Linked DNA regions of Homo sapiens. The protein of the gene in region 1 interacts with the protein of each later gene in a pairwise test. Each region holds a gene or a part of one and is shown in the gene's direction. Other genes may lie near its edges.

What was found. Proteins that work in one complex are often made in the same cells at the same time.
Region 2: the proteins of STAT1 (region 1) and OTUD4 interact in binary tests that used the Homo sapiens proteins (3 or more experiments, as listed by UniProt).

What each region holds. Positions count from the first base shown.
Region 1 is NC_000002.12:190,975,789-190,983,777, reverse strand, and holds part of STAT1 (signal transducer and activator of transcription 1-alpha/beta), read left to right. Parts: intron 1-37; coding exon 38-136; intron 137-1,259; coding exon 1,260-1,395; intron 1,396-3,108; coding exon 3,109-3,158; intron 3,159-3,911; coding exon 3,912-4,006; intron 4,007-4,776; coding exon 4,777-4,922; intron 4,923-6,752; coding exon 6,753-6,938; intron 6,939-7,866; coding exon of another isoform or gene 7,867-7,890; coding exon 7,891-7,966; coding exon of another isoform or gene 7,967-7,970; exon of another isoform or gene 7,971-7,989. UniProt on the Homo sapiens protein: Signal transducer and transcription activator that mediates cellular responses to interferons (IFNs), cytokine KITLG/SCF and other cytokines and other growth factors.
Region 2 is NC_000004.12:145,170,197-145,178,185, reverse strand, and holds part of OTUD4 (OTU domain-containing protein 4), read left to right. Parts: intron 1-27; exon of another isoform or gene 28-58; intron 59-3,441; coding exon 3,442-3,525; coding exon of another isoform or gene 3,526-3,546; intron 3,547-6,465; coding exon 6,466-6,516; intron 6,517-7,989.

The sequences.
Region 1 (7,989 bases):
TGATTCAGATGATTTCAAGGTCTTTGTCATCCTTTAGACGACCTCTCTGCCCGTTGTGGTGATCTCCAACGTCAGCCAGCTCCCGAGCGGTTGGGCCTCCATCCTTTGGTACAACATGCTGGTGGCGGAACCCAGGGTATGGAAAACACATTTGCTTTGGTCCCAGGGTTAAGCAGAGACCCCACGCTCTCACTGCTGCATCTCTGAAATAGCCCCAATGGCCAGTTGTTAAGGGAGAAGTGACAAAGCTCCTGTGGTATTTCTAAGGCTTTTGAGTAAATCTGGGAATATGAAGCATGGATATGTATTTGAAATGAGAATTACGTTTTTTCTCCCATGTGGGTAAGCTAGGGCAGTCAGTGATTCCATACCACTTTATTGTTATTATTTTTAAAATGTATACATCTACTAAACAAGCATGCTCCATTCTTAGAGTGTGGATACTCACTGTTAATTAATTACAGTCATTTATAATTATTCAAAGTACTTATGTTTTTTAAAGTCACCAGGAACACTTAACTAGCAAATAATGAATTGTTGCTCCTAAGGGAACTACGAGGCTAGGTTCCTTCAAGCCTCTGGTCACAACATTTTTGTCAACCCATCAATGCATAACATTGTTTATGTGTGTTTCTGTTTAAAGACACCTTATCTAATACACTTGTTGAGGCATTAACATTACACCTATAGCTAGGATCACTGTAACTCATGCCTGAGTGAAGCTTGCCTCACACATGTATTTTCTCCATAAGGCACATCCCAGCCTTCCCATGCTTAGGAACAGTAGACCACACTGTGGTACTATGCTCGGGCACCATTTTAAACAGGGATCACCAACAGCAGTCACAAAATGCAAAAAACATGGCGCTAAATAGGCTTCAAAAAGGACACGTTTTTCTTATGAGAGGTGAAACAGGAAGCGAGTGTCATTTTGTTTGGCTTCAGTTGGAAGCGTGTTAAGAGACTCGAATTCTTTGCTGCTGTGTGCTGCTGTGTGTGCACGGGTGTGTCTTCAAATGACCCCAAAGATGCCATGTATTTAGATTTTGGAGTTACAAGTAAATTTTAGTGAGTAAACAAGTTCACAAATGTGCATCTGTAAATAATGAAAATTGACTGTATTTCTCTTCCCCTACTGTGAAAGCACCTGTGTGTCATATAAACTAGAATTGAACTTTGGGATGGACATATGTTTTAGTGCCACACTTGTGACTGGTGTCTCTGTAGTAACCCTTAGATTTTGGGTGTTTTCTCTCTAGAATCTGTCCTTCTTCCTGACTCCACCATGTGCACGATGGGCTCAGCTTTCAGAAGTGCTGAGTTGGCAGTTTTCTTCTGTCACCAAAAGAGGTCTCAATGTGGACCAGCTGAACATGTTGGGAGAGAAGCTTCTTGGTATATGCATATTAACTTGTTATGTTTATAAAAATTGAAATTCATAAAAATATCTCTCTAATTGCTCTTTTCCCCTCTGCTATTTTGTTAAAGGTAAAAAAGTACTAAAATCTGTCAGCTTTTCAAGCTATAGTTTATTATAGCTAAGTGAGAATCATATGTCACCTTAGAAAGAAATATAGACCTGATAACATTTAAATGAATCCGTTCCTCATTGTCTCATATTAAGATTTCTGAGATGAATTCCCAAGGGAAAGTTTTATGAATTATGTAAAATATATTATTTGTGGCTGAAATAAGTTCCTGGATGAGAAAGATGAAGGCCTATTAACCATTAACCTTGGGGAGAAAAAAGGAAGTCCCTGACATGATGAGAAATAAAGTCCTGGGGCTTGCCCACTGCAGCATAAACCCAGGGCCCTTGCCTCAGGTGGGGCCCAGGTAGCAGAGGATGCCGTCCCCACAAGAGGATGCCTCTTTTGATCTGCAGTTTTGCCTGATTGGACAGAGTCTAGACAGTGGTAGATAATTCCCTTTCAGTGGTTAATGTCAGTGCATTTATTAGTCCTTCATACTAAACAAATCAAAGATCCACTAGTCTCAAGGTCAGATCTTTCAGTGAGTGAGGCTATCTGAACTATTTCTTTAAAAATCCGTGGACAACTTGTATCCAGATTTGCTTTCTGTAGAGCAGCACTGCATTTACTCCAAACAGCAGTAGGCTCTTCCTAACTCAGTGACTTTCAACAGTGCCTTCTTCTCTTGGATATGCAGCTGTCACAGTGGTGGTCTTGTGCTGTTTAATACAAGTACAAAATCCCCTTATTCCATTTCTTTATTTGGTGAGAGTTAAGAAGGATATCTTTTCTAGCTGTAATGGCTCATTTGTAGTTCTCTTTGAAGACCGATAATGGGCTTACCGCCTCTTCTCGCCCAGGCTGCTTTAATTTGTGTAGCTAATAACCCCGGGCTTCTTCCTCTCGTTTCTCTCACTTGGTTTTTGATTTGCATCAGACTGCCTGAGCCCATGTCCTATTTGGAGGAAAGCTGAGGGAAATGCATAAATAATGTCTAAAATAAACTTGTAAAGTCAAGTATCAGTTACATTGAAGATCTAGGGGTGATCTTGGGCACCTAGGTTGAACTTTGAAAAAAATTCTGTAGGATCCTTGGGAGAGGGGGCTCTGCTGAGCAGCAGAGGAAGGCAGTGGGAAGAGGCACTGGATAGGGAGGCTTCTCTAGGAGGCCCAGCAGAACACCTTTGATTTAGTGCAAAAGGCAAAGTCAGCTGATGGTCTTGGAAGGAAGTGTAACATGAAGAGGCATTAAAAGGACTGTCCTCTCTTTAGAGGAGGGAGGGAAAAGGGGGGCTGGGGAGGGAGAGAGCAGATGGTAAGGCTTTGTGATGTTTCCGCTTTCCCTAAAAACTCTCATATCGTGGTGCCCAGGAATCTGCCATCCATTCCTTTCTGCCATTAAACTCAAACCAACATATACATATTTTAGACCATTTAAATTCCGCCCTCTTACAGCACGTATTATAATTGCTCAGTTAATTTGGCATTAAGGTATCCGAAAATGTCAACTGTGTACATACAATCTTTGTTGGGTGTTTGGCTCTTTTCCTTGAGAGCAAATACAAGAGCCATCCGTCCAACCAAAGCTTTAGAATCAGTTTCTGTTTGCTGAAAAATCTGGTTTTTATTTGTTTAGGTCCTAACGCCAGCCCCGATGGTCTCATTCCGTGGACGAGGTTTTGTAAGGTGAGGACTGTCTGGGTTTTATGCTCTCTAAGTCCTTTTTGCTCTTGGTTGAGGTTCTCATGTTTCTTGCTGTGATAGTTACTTAACTGTTTGCTTATTTTGGCGTGTTCTTCTCTGGCCAAGGAGCCCCTCGGGCAAGTTGTTTACTTTTCTTCAGTGCAGGAGGTTGGTCTCCGAGCAGGAGTCTGACAGGAAGCACCTGCCTGAGTGATAACATTCTTTCATATCTGAAATGAGGCTTCTGTTCACTCACGCTGGACCCCTGCCCAGCAGTGTTTTAGCCATTTCTGTGTGAAATGTATGTTGTGGGCTGGGTGGCGCAGCCTGACCAGCCAGACGAGTTTAACGGCCTGCTCGAGCAGAGGGGCCCACTGCGGGGAACATTTAGATTCTGCTGGAGTCACCAGACAGTGCGGACCAGCTTGCACTGCTGGATTTTGCTAGTGTGGGGCAGCTTGTGTTTCCGTGAGTCACGCTGGAGGTCACCCCCAGGCTAGCTTGCTACTGTTTGGAAAGGGAAGCAGAGCCCGGCCCAGGGAAGTGGAGAGCTCTGGAGAGCTCCTGGTCTGAATGCTGATAAGAGCGGGGAGGGAACTTGATATTCCCTGCCAGGGGAGGGATCCCATTGCTGTGCTGAATGGGACAGTTCCATCCTTGGCACCTGGGGAGTCTTTGCAAATGATGGTGGGAGGGGCCATGGTAAGTCATTGTTTTAGATTTTTGTTCATAATGTCTGCATTTGTATACTTTCAGGAAAATATAAATGATAAAAATTTTCCCTTCTGGCTTTGGATTGAAAGCATCCTAGAACTCATTAAAAAACACCTGCTCCCTCTCTGGAATGATGGGTAAGGGCCACCGATAGATGTATTTTGAAACATATTTTTAGTGCTGCGAGGTTGAGACAAGGCCTGAGTCCAGCTTCAGTATTTGACTAGGCGTGTGTGAATCTCACAGGAGTGCGCATTTATAGGCTGCCCCTTCAGGGCTTCAGAAGAGTAGAACCTCATAACATTAACCTTACACTTTCTTAGTACAAGTATATGTATTGGCAAAGCTAAATTAAAAAAAAAAAACAACTCTTGAGTGCCATTCATGCATTCATTCACTCAACAAAAATTTTTTGAGCACCTACTATGTGGCCCCTAGGAAGGAAGAAAAACCCTTTTAACTGGGTAAATCATTTCTATCTTGACTTATTGCCAGGATCGGCTGATATTTCAACAGAAGCTTTAACTTGATCAGAAGGGCTAAAATATGAAAATATATTGCCTAGGTCTTCCTCTCCAGTAAAAAAGATGTATACATTCAGACATTGTTATGGCCTTTAAAATAATAAAGGAACAATAAAAGGCTCATTAATCCCACACGTGTTATTGAGCATCTGTAGCATCCTACTGACACCATGTTCATATCGCTTTTTTTAAAACCTTAGTATATACATGTATAAGTGAAATGCTTCCTTAAGTGTCAACTGAACAGATTTTAAAATAGTCTACGTTTTTTACCGTAGGTTTTTTTTCTCACATTCCAGCCATTTTCTTGGTTTGTAAGTTAGCATGAAAATGGAAATCATGATTGAACTAAAAGCCCATCCGTCCATCTCTTCGATATCCAGGTGCATCATGGGCTTCATCAGCAAGGAGCGAGAGCGTGCCCTGTTGAAGGACCAGCAGCCGGGGACCTTCCTGCTGCGGTTCAGTGAGAGCTCCCGGGAAGGGGCCATCACATTCACATGGGTGGAGCGGTCCCAGAACGGAGGCGGTGAGTGGGAGTTTGAGCACATAGTCCCACCATTCCATGTGTGTGAAGTCCCTCTTCATCGCCGCCAGTCAGCTCATACAGATAGTGCGTTTGGGACATGAAATTGCAGATCTTATACTTACCCCAAATGAGCCCCCGATAGGATTTAATAAACCACCACAAATGTTTGTGGTTGTGGTTCACTCTCTGGAACATATTGTGGAAATGATGGTTTTGAAAAGACAATGCCAATTCTTTCCTTTGCATCAGGTTTGTTATCTGCAGATCAAGGATGTGAGTCAATGTAATCTGCAACCCGTTCTTGGAAGGAATCACATTTCCCACAGGAGTAAGCATCCACATTCTCTTAGGGTCATCCCAGAGTAGAGTGTGCAGATGAGACAGGCTTCGGGAGAAGACTTCATACACATCATCAGCCAGGGAGTTGATGCAGGACCTGTTGGGACGAGTGGCAGCCTCTACCCTGCCTTCAAACAGAGCAGCTGCAAATTTATCTTTATCATATATGGGGTTTCTATTTAATCAAATGAGTCCATGGCTAAAAGACTCCAGAAACCTTGGTGTTATGAAGCAGGTTTCTGAGGGTGAAGCTCAACAGCGTAAATGAAAAAATCATAAAGACCAACTGATTACTTTTCACTGTTGTTTAGAGTTTGGTCTGTTTGAAGGGCAGGAGGAAAAACTGATTTGTTTTAGTAATTTTTATACTTTCAGTGGGTAGACACAAAATGGAATACTCTTCTTGTTCTATTTATTTTTCTGAAATATTCCTCTTCTCCTGTTTTTCTGGAATACTCTTATTCTATTTGTTTTTCTGCCATACTCTTCTTGTTCTGTTTGTTTTTCTGGAATACTCTTCTATTTTTTTTTTCTGGAACGGTATTCTTTCTTGTTCTGTTTATTTTTCAGGAATACTCTTCTTGTTCTATTTGTTTTTCTGGAATACTTTTCTTGTTCTATTTTTCTTCTGAGGAAAAAGCAGGGAGGCTGAGATGAGAGTCTGGCGTGGGCAGTAGTCATTAGAACCTGCCCTTTTCCTCTTATCCTGTTCCCTTCCTGAACCAGCTGAGAGACAGATATAGTAGACCAAGCAGAGATGAAGAAAACCCTTGGCAACCAGGAAAGGTCAAGCAGGACACTACCAGCCAGGAAGGGTTAGGATGGCAGCATAGTCTCATGTTCCACAGCAGGCTCCCCAGAACACCTGAACCGTGGCCTCTGGAAGGTCGACACCCAAAGGGAGATTCTGTATCAGCTAGGAAGAAGGATCTGAATTCAGTCTGGGAATAAGAACGGGAGTAAATTAAACCATGGTTTATTACGTTAAGGGTTACAGGGAAATGTAGCAAATAGGATCATTTTTAATTTGAAATGTTGTTTTCTATATATCATAATTTATTTTAATAAAAAATTAGATTTTTCAATATGAAAAGAAAAACAAAGTGAGTTTATCTCTAGTAATTTAAATCTGTGGCTTAAGCCAAGATGATCCACTTAGTAGTAAGTTATTTATGTGCCTATGGGCAGCACATCATTGAAGATGCAGGCTTTTAAAGGTTTTTAATAAATCTTTTTTGCCCAGATTTATAAATCTAAGCAAATAATGGCAAATAGAATGTTATTGAGAATAATACCTCCCTTTATTTTCCCTGAGACAGTATTATAATTTATTTAGAAATAAAGCAGTCTACTGTATATGTTATAATGCTTAGATTGTGATTAGTTCTTATGAGGTTCACTCAAATCCATCAACTCTGCAGTGTTTTATTTCTCTGTCCTCTTTCATTTTGGGATGTTCTATGGGATTTACTTAGCTTTTCTCCTTTTTAGAACCTGACTTCCATGCGGTTGAACCCTACACGAAGAAAGAACTTTCTGCTGTTACTTTCCCTGACATCATTCGCAATTACAAAGTCATGGCTGCTGAGAATATTCCTGAGAATCCCCTGAAGTATCTGTATCCAAATATTGACAAAGACCATGCCTTTGGAAAGTATTACTCCAGGCCAAAGGAAGGTAAGTGGGGCAAGCAGGTGGTAACAGCGTGGCACAGTCTTTCCTGATGAGGGGGTGATTATTCTGAAACTCCACCCATGCAGTGTTTTGCTTTCGAATTGGTAAGAGTAGGCTTTCAAAAGATGGCATAAACTCAGTGCAGGTGAAACATAATGCATTATTTGGCCTGATACAGCTAGTAAGAAATGAATGGACAATTTCCTATTTTAGGAATGTTGGAAAAGTCCATTGCTGGTCTTGTGTATTTGTTACTATCACTGTTTCCACATGAAAAGGGTTTAAATAAGGAACTGTGGTAAACCAACAGAAGGCATCTTGCTCACGTTAAAGTTGAGGAAACTGAGGCCTGGGAGAAGTGAAGTGGTTCATTTAGGGTGGCCCAATTACTTACTAGATCCTATTTTTATTAGATAATTATTAAGAGGAGGCCTCATCTGAGAACACAGGTCTCTTGCTTCTCAGTTGTCAATGAATTGCATTTGAGAAGGTTCGAATTAGACCTGTTTTGTTTGGAACACACCAACAAAGCTGTTTTTCAGAATCAGAAATCTCAATATTAGGACAATTACTTTGGAATGAAGATGTCCCCAGCTTACCTTGACAGCTGTGAATATTCATTAGCCAGGCTAATGCCAATAAACTGGATAGAACTTTGCATATTTTGGGCTCAGACTTCTTGTAAGATTTCAAGTTGTGTAAAGAGAAAGCTCCTAGCTAGTGTCCTGCTGAACACTAGCTTATTTCCAGACTGAATTCAGATCCTTCTTCTCGTTGTTTCTGCATTCCCACTAGAATTTTAGGTGACTCAGGCAGGGAGGTTATAGCTCCTTAAAGTTTTAGGAGGCTAAGCTGTCTAGAAACACAGTAGAACTTTAATCCCCCCGAAAAGTTGATGTTGTATTCTGATGGAATTTCGGTTGATGGAAAGCGTACACAATGTGTTTATTTCTAGCACCAGAGCCAATGGAACTTGATGGCCCTAAAGGAACTGGATATATCAAGACTGAGTTGATTTCTGTGTCTGAAGTGTAAGTGAACACAGAAGAGTGAC
Region 2 (7,989 bases), on another chromosome or scaffold:
TTTTTAAGTAGAAAAGGGGCAAGAGCTAGTTTACACTAAGAACTCTTTGTTACATCAGGTAACACATTTTATTGTATTTTGTAATGGGGTTTAGGTTAGGCATAAGGGACTACCCTTCCCAGTTATGTGACTCAGTTTTAGTCTGATGAGCTTAGCTGAAGACCTTGAACTTTGGGGGAAGTTCAGTTATTCAGTAGGCTACAGTTATAGCCATCATCGCCAAAGGCAAAGTGTGTGTGTGTGGGAAAAAGGAAGTAATACCAGCGTCAGGCTTCCCTTTTAAAATGTGTACCAATAATTTATATTTTTTGCCAACAATTTCTCCTATAAAATCACAAATACTCATCATTTCTAAGAAGGAATCAAAGTAAATAATCTAAGTGGCAGTTTTTAAAGACGGGGAGGAGACTCGAGTTAGGATTTTGGTCTTTCTCTCCAAATTATCTGATTTAGATAGGCCATTTCCTTTTTACACTTACGGATTTGGGCCTGCCGGAGGCCTGACCTGAATCAGCTCCACAGCCATGGAGCTAAAAATAGGGCAGTCTTGGAGGACTTGCTAAAACAGTGTCTCAGCCTTTCCCAGTATTTATCACTATCTTGTCCCAAGTAAAAATGGGAAAGCCTTCTAGTTTGCTTTCATGTATATATTAATTTGCAGAGATATTTGTCATACTACTTTAATTCTTTCGAAGTGTTATCAACCTTGCACAATAATTTACATTTTAGACAGTTGTCATTTAACCTTGCTTTTCTTGCAGTGCTTGACTTTGTGAATTACCAGCACTCTCACACTTTATAGAAGTTGCTAAGAGTTTTGCTTCTGAGCAACAGGTTCAGATAGATTGTATGTGCCAAAATCTTTGTTAAAAGAGAAGAACCAGTAGATATGCCTACCATTGCTTTTGATTGAAAATAAGCTTTACTAACTTATGTTTGCCACCTGTTGCTAGGTAAATGGCTTTAAGACTAGCTCCACGTTGCTAATGGCAGAGGAAAGCCCTATCAGATGACACTGTGGTTTATTCATACGAGTAATACCTTGATTCATGATAGTGTCTAACATAGCTTCTGTGAAAGAAGTGTTGCTAAATGTCATTTGTTGAATTGGCAAAAAAATTCTACGGTGGTTATTTTTATATATAGATAGTCCTTTTTGGTCACATACTCTTAGAATATATAAGAATATAGTTTAATAGTGTCCAAGAACAGCAGTGAAGGTAGAATCAGTTAAACTGAAAACCAGTTATTACACTGAAAACAAACTAATTGCTAACCTCAACAGGTGCATTTTCAGTGTATCTCAGCGTAATAGGACATACTAGGCGTCCAGGCAGTTGTGCCGGTTCTGTGGGTATAAATGAGCCTTGGTTGTGATCCAAGAGAGCTGTAGAATGCACAGCTGGAGCCTCCCTTTTCCCAAATGCTCTACTCATGCTAAACGTAAAGGGAGAACCACTCAATTGGATCTGTAACTTTTTTTTTTTGAGACAGAGTCTTACTCTGTCACTCAGGCTGGAGTGCCCTGGCACGATCTCGGCTCACTGCAACCTCTGCCTCCTGGTTTCAAGCCATTCTCCTGCCTCAGCCTCCCAGGTAGCTGGGACTACAGGCACGCACCACCACACCTGGCTAATTTTTTTTTTTTTTTTGTATTTTTTAGTAGAGATGGGGTTTTCACCATGTTGACCAGGCTAGTCTCAAACTCCTGACCTCAGGGGACCCACCCTCCTCGGCCTCCCAAAGTGCTGGGATTACAGGCGTGAGCCACAGTGCCCGGCCAGGATCTGTAACTTTTAAAGATACTTTCTATTAATATAAATTCTCAAGAGGCCTTGATGGTAGTTTGAAATGTGTTACTTTAAGTGTGTCTGAGTTTTTTTTTTTTAAACCATAACCCTTTACGGTACAGGAATATCTTTATTTGAGATACCCAGTAATAGAAAAGAATTTTAATCTCCTTTAAGCATGTTAAATAATTGGGAGCTAGGGCCGGGCGTGGTGGCTCATGTCTGTAATCCCAGCACTTTGAGAGGCCCAGGCGGGCAGATCACCTGAGGTCAGGAGTTTGAGACCACCCTGCCCAACATGGTGAAACCCTGTCTCTACTAAAAATAGAAAAATGAGCCGGAAAAAAAAAAAAGAAAGAAAGAAAAATTAGCCGGACATGGCAGCTCCTGTAATCCGGCTACTCGGGAGGCTGAGGCAGGAGAATCGCTTGAACTTGTGAGGCGGAGGTTGCGGTGAGCTGAGATTGCACCACTGCACTCCAGCCTGGTGGGGGAAAAAAGAATTGGGAGCTAGCTAGAAGGAAGCATTGGATAAGAAATAGTTGTTTCAGGCTGGGCACAGTGGCTCATGCCTGTTGTAATCCCAGCACATTGGGAGGTCGAGGTGGGCGGATCACGAGGTCAGGAGTTTGAGACCAGCCTGGCCAAGATGGTGAAACCCTGTCTCTACTAAAAATACAAAAATTAGCCAAGCGCCGTGGTAGTTGGCTGTAATCCCAGCTACTCAGGAGGCTGAGGCAGGAAGATCGCTTGAACCTGGGAGGTGAAGGTTGCAGAGAGCCAAGCTTGCGCCACTGCACTCTAGCCTGGGTGACAGAGCAGGACTCCGTCTCAAAAAAAAAAAAAGAAATAGTTGTTTCAATTCACAGCTTTAGAATTTTGGTAAAAGACCACATGCCAGTAAGTTATCTTTTTGTTGAACTGGTTGTTTAATAGAAGAAAATGTAAACTGCAGAGTGAGAGGATCTGGATCATACTTTGTAGGTTGGTACTTTACAATTTAGGGCATAAAAACAAACCCCAAACCTCTTGGGATGATACCACACAACATTTTTGCACCCCCTATGCTGCCTACTTGGATGTTCTTTCTTGTCTTATAAGCTTGATCACCAAGGAAAGAATGAGTGCCTTAATTTTTCTGAAACCATAGTGGACTTAAATTTTTACACAGAGCCTCTAAGTGGATTCAGAATTAATGGGAAAAATAAATCGGCCTCTTACAGGCTGAAAGCCTCAAAATACATTCCTACAGAAGTTGCCAGTTTGTCTTTTTCAATATGTATAGGATGAAGTTGAGCGTGGCGTAGCATGGATTTTGTTAGCTCTTCTTTGTGAAGAGTAAAGTTATTGTGGAGGGAAGGCCAAGGGAAGAGAGTGTCCTAAATTTACAAAAATGTCCTAAAGGAGAAAGGCTAATAAATTCTTTACAAATTTGGCTTAAGAAGTAGTATTGTTTGTATATGTCATGTCTTCGCTGTGCTTAGTTAGAAGAAGAGGTAGGAATGAGTAAAGATATCGAAATTATAGAAAGGGAAATGGAGAAAGACTGATAATCTATTGGTTGTCAGATTATTTTGGGTGTAAAAGAAGACATTAGGTTGTAACTTTTAACTAAATGCTTAATAGTGTGTTTGTTGCCTTTTCTTTTTAGGTATTGCACTCTCAGTCTCGCCATGTTGAAGTCAGAATGGCCTGTATTCACTATCTTCGAGAGAACAGAGAGAAATTTGAAGCGGTAACTTGTAATTTCAAACATGTAATGGTGTCTTGACTTGGTTTTACATTTTGGCTTTTAGAAGTGTTCTAGTAGAATTTCACAGGCTGGATCTTAATGCGGGTTATGAAAATAACACTTATTAAAAAAACTTCTCTATTGAACTTAATCTAGTTATATTCAGTTATGTTGTTTTCTAGGCTATTTTATGTTTTGCATTTATTTGGACATTTAGAAAGCTACTATGATGGATAAGACGCTGAGCTGTGGGGGATGGAAAGATGACCTGGACAAGGCCCTTGCATACTAAGAGTGGGCTTTGTCTGACATGGTCAGGGAATTGGGGGTGTTGTGATTAATAGTGGTTTCTGTGATGGGTAACTCCCTATAAATTAAAAGAAAAAAAATTCAGTCTGGGCATGGTGGCTCACACCTGTAATCCCAGTACTTTGGGAGGTGAAGAGTTCAAGACCAGCTTGGCCAACATGGCAAAACTCTGTGTCTACTAAAAGTAGTGGCATGGTGGCACATGCCTGAGTCCCAGCTACTCTTGAGTCTGAGGCACGAGGATTGCTCGAACCCAGGAGGCAGAGGTTGCAGTGAGCCGAGTTGCGCCGCTGCACCACAGCCTGGGTGACAGAGTGAGACTCTGTCTCAAAAAAAAAAAAAAAAAAATTCAGACTTGCAGTGTAAAAAATACGCTGAGTGTAAGTAATGCTGAACCCTTAATTTTATCAGAAGGCATTCATAGGTTTTTAATTTTCAGGGTTCAGTGTGAACTCACATGTCAGAACATTATAATTATGTAAGTAGTGATTAATAGTTAATAAAATGTTGTATAACAGCTTAATATAATTTTCTCAGTAGTATGTGAAATAAGATGCCACAGTGACCTGTTTTCATTTTACATTCAAAGTCTTACAGGATTTATTACTTACTGGTTTTAAGACCTAGAATTATGTAATCTGACAACTTTGGGTGTTATTTCCCCCAGTTGACTGGTAGAGAATGTTGATATAATACTTTGCAAATGATAGGCTTGAAACCTTGTTTTATTAAAAAAACCTGGTAACGCAGAGGCTAGATAAGAGAGTGCAGAGGTGTGGTAGAGAAGGGAAGTGGGGAGGTGGAATGGTCTTTAAATTAATTCTTATTAATCATTGGCCCCAGAGGGTAAAACTGTGTTGATAATAATGGACATTGCTAACATTGGTTGAGGTGCTTACTATATGCCAGGCATTAAGTGTTTTGCATATATTTTTTTTAGTCCATATAATTTTTTTTTTTTGAGACAGAGTCTCGCTCTGTCGCCCAGGCTGGAGTGCAGTGGCGCCATCTTGGCTCACTGCAAGCTCCGCCTCCCGGGTTCATGCCATTCTCCTGCCTCAGCCTCCAGTGTAGCTGGGTCTACAGGTGCCTGGCACCATCACGCCAGGCTAATTTTTTGTATTTTTAGTAGAGATGGGGTTTCACCATGTTAGCTAGGATGGTCTCGATCTCCTGACCTCATGCTCTGCCTGCCCCGGCCTCCCAAAGTGCTGGGATTACAGGCGTGAGCCACCGTGCCTGGCCTTAGTCCATATAATTTTATGAGGTATGATCAGAGGTTGAAAGTTCCATGGGGAAAAGTTTCACTTTCCTTTTATGAACCTTCAAGCAGTTTCAGTTGTCCAGAATTGGAAAGAGATGTTGTAGAAAGTATTATGCCTTGTTACTGACATTGTTCAGCCATGGCATAGGTGGACGCTTTCTGCTCAGAAAGGAGACTCTCAGAGAGGATGCAGGCTTGTGTCAGAATTCTGCAGTCTCTAGTAACTTTAAATGGTTCTGTGTTTTTTTTTTCCTTAGACCTATAATCATCTAATACAGAACAGTAGCCCTTTATTGGTGGGCTCTTTAATATATATGGCTCTTTTATTATAAATATCTTTCGAAATTTAAGATATTTTTGGCAATTTGACATTATATAATCTATGAAAGAATCTCAATCTTAAAATCCAAGGGTGCTTAAAAGATTTTATAGACAAGGGAGTATACTTTAATGTCTTTAAGTATATCTCTGCTAAATCAACTGGGACTGTAATTTAAACGCAATTGAATTTGGTGGTTCAACAAATGACTTTTAGAGATTTCTCAAATGAGTGCGATTGCTATTAAAGAAACATAAAAAAGGTTGTGTTATTACACAGCTTGAATAAACTGTTTTTATGTCAAAGTAACAATGAAGCGATGAAGCAAGCTGTATTAGAAAAATTTTGTTGATGCTTCAAAATATTTTTCGCCTTACTAGTTCTCATCGCTCTTTCTAGTATCACTTGAGAGACAATGAGTACTCTTATCTGTATTATTAAGCTATACTATTTCTTAGCTTGTAAGTCAGTCTTTGTTTTATTCCCTTCTACACACTGGTCACTACCAAGTTAAAGCACTGCTTTCATCATATAATTTCTCAGTTCAGAATGTCACCTGAAGTGGCCTTGAATGGCCTTTCTCATCTAGCCTTCAAGTCCTGCCTGGGCTCAAGGCCCTCTGTAAACAGGCCCCCCTTTGGGTTCTTCTCCCACTCAGTTCCACAACAGGTTGTCCTGCTCCAGCTGGCCAGATTGCTTGTCTTCCCAACACAGTGTTCCTCTTCCTCCTCACGCCACATTGGCCCTCTCTGTAGAGTATCAGCTGCCTGTTGCCATCCAGATCCTGTCCAGCATTCATCTTGAGTCACTCTTCTTTCAGGAAACCTTTCCTGACAGAATTTCCTTCTTTAAATTCTTTTGTATGTTTATAGTCTTTAATGATTGCTATATGTTTTCATAATTAGATTATGTACATATTTTTAAATAATACTGAGGTATTTTAGGTTTATGTACAAACTCAGTAATTCACAGTGAATGTTTACACAGCGAAGCGGTTAACTGTTTTGGCATATATGTTAGATGACATTTCTAATAGATTTATTTTTTGCAGTTTATAGAAGGATCATTTGAAGAATATTTAAAGCGTTTGGAAAATCCACAGGTATGTCACAGTCTTCTAGTATATTTCTATTTTTATATATCCAAATAATGTATTTAAAATTCATTAAAATAGAAGATTACTATTACAGTGTATAGAGGAGTTGCAGTGACGGTGTATCCTATTTCCTTATAAACGTTTCCTACACATTTTATGCAGCACTTAAGTTGGAGCTATATGTTAGAGGTTGCCTCACTAAGGCAGAGTTGTGATATTTTATCTTGGCTATAATGGCATGTAAATGTAGTATAAAAATCTGAAATAATACTGGGGTGATGATTTTCAGAATGCTACGTTGGTGTGTGTATGGAACTTGGACAGGGTGAAGTTTGATTTCTTTTTTTTTTTTTTTGAGGTGGAATTTAACTCCATTGCCAGGCTGGAGTGCATGGCATGATCTCGGCTCACTGCAGCCTCCGCCTCCCGAGTTCAAGCGATTTGTCTCCCGAGTATCTGGGACTACAGGCGTGCACCACCATGTCCAGCTAATTTTTTTATTTTTAGTAGAGATGGGGTTTCACCATATTGGCCAGGATGGTCTCGATCTCTCGACCTCGTGATCCGCCTGCCTCAGCCTCCCAAAGTGCTGGGATTACAGGTGTGAGCCACCACACCTGGCCTGCAGAGTTTTTCTTCCTAGGCAACTGAGAAGGCAGAGTTCTTTCATGCAGGTTCCTATTTCCATGATCATCTCGTGAAGAGGGAAGAGACTGTTGAGACAGAAAAGGATAGCACTTACTCACCAACTCCTGCTGCTATACTTTTTCAGTCATGTTTATGTTAAAAGGATTTTTCTTAATTTTTCTGTTTACAAAACTAACGTTCTCACTGTAAAAATCCAAGTATCTTGGAATGCCATTTAGAATGTTAAGGTAAAAATAACATTGGCAAAGAAAAAAGCTAAGAAGAGTTAAGGAGTAAAGGGAATGTAATGTAGGAACCAAGGGTGTTTGATCGATGACTGATGTATCCATTTGGTTGCCTAACACTAATTTGAGTGCTTGTTATGGGCCAAGAATTCCTAGTCACCCTGGGGATGCAGAGATAATGTAGATAACAAAAAAGTTTCCCTATCATAGGAAAGAAGGTCAATACAAGCTAGAAAAGGAGATTTGTCACAAGAGGTATATAGCTGTGATGCTGTAGGCATTCAAAGTGTTATTTCTAGCTGGGTAGACAAAGCAACACTTGGAGAGTGAGTTGTATTTGAAGTCTGAATGGATTCTAAATAGGAAATGCCTGGGCTGAAGGGCATTCCAGGCAGTGAAAACTGTGAGCAAAGCAGATTCAGAAAACAGTTCCAATTGTGTGGAGCATTGAGTATGTGAAGATAAGAAGTGGTGAGAAAGGAGTTGGAAGGCAGGTTGGGGCCAGACTGTGGGAGAGCCTTCAGTGTTAGGGTCAGTGGTTTGGAGCTTATGCTTTAGACCCGTGTTTCTCAAAGTGTGATCTGTAGGTTATCTGTATCAAAATCAC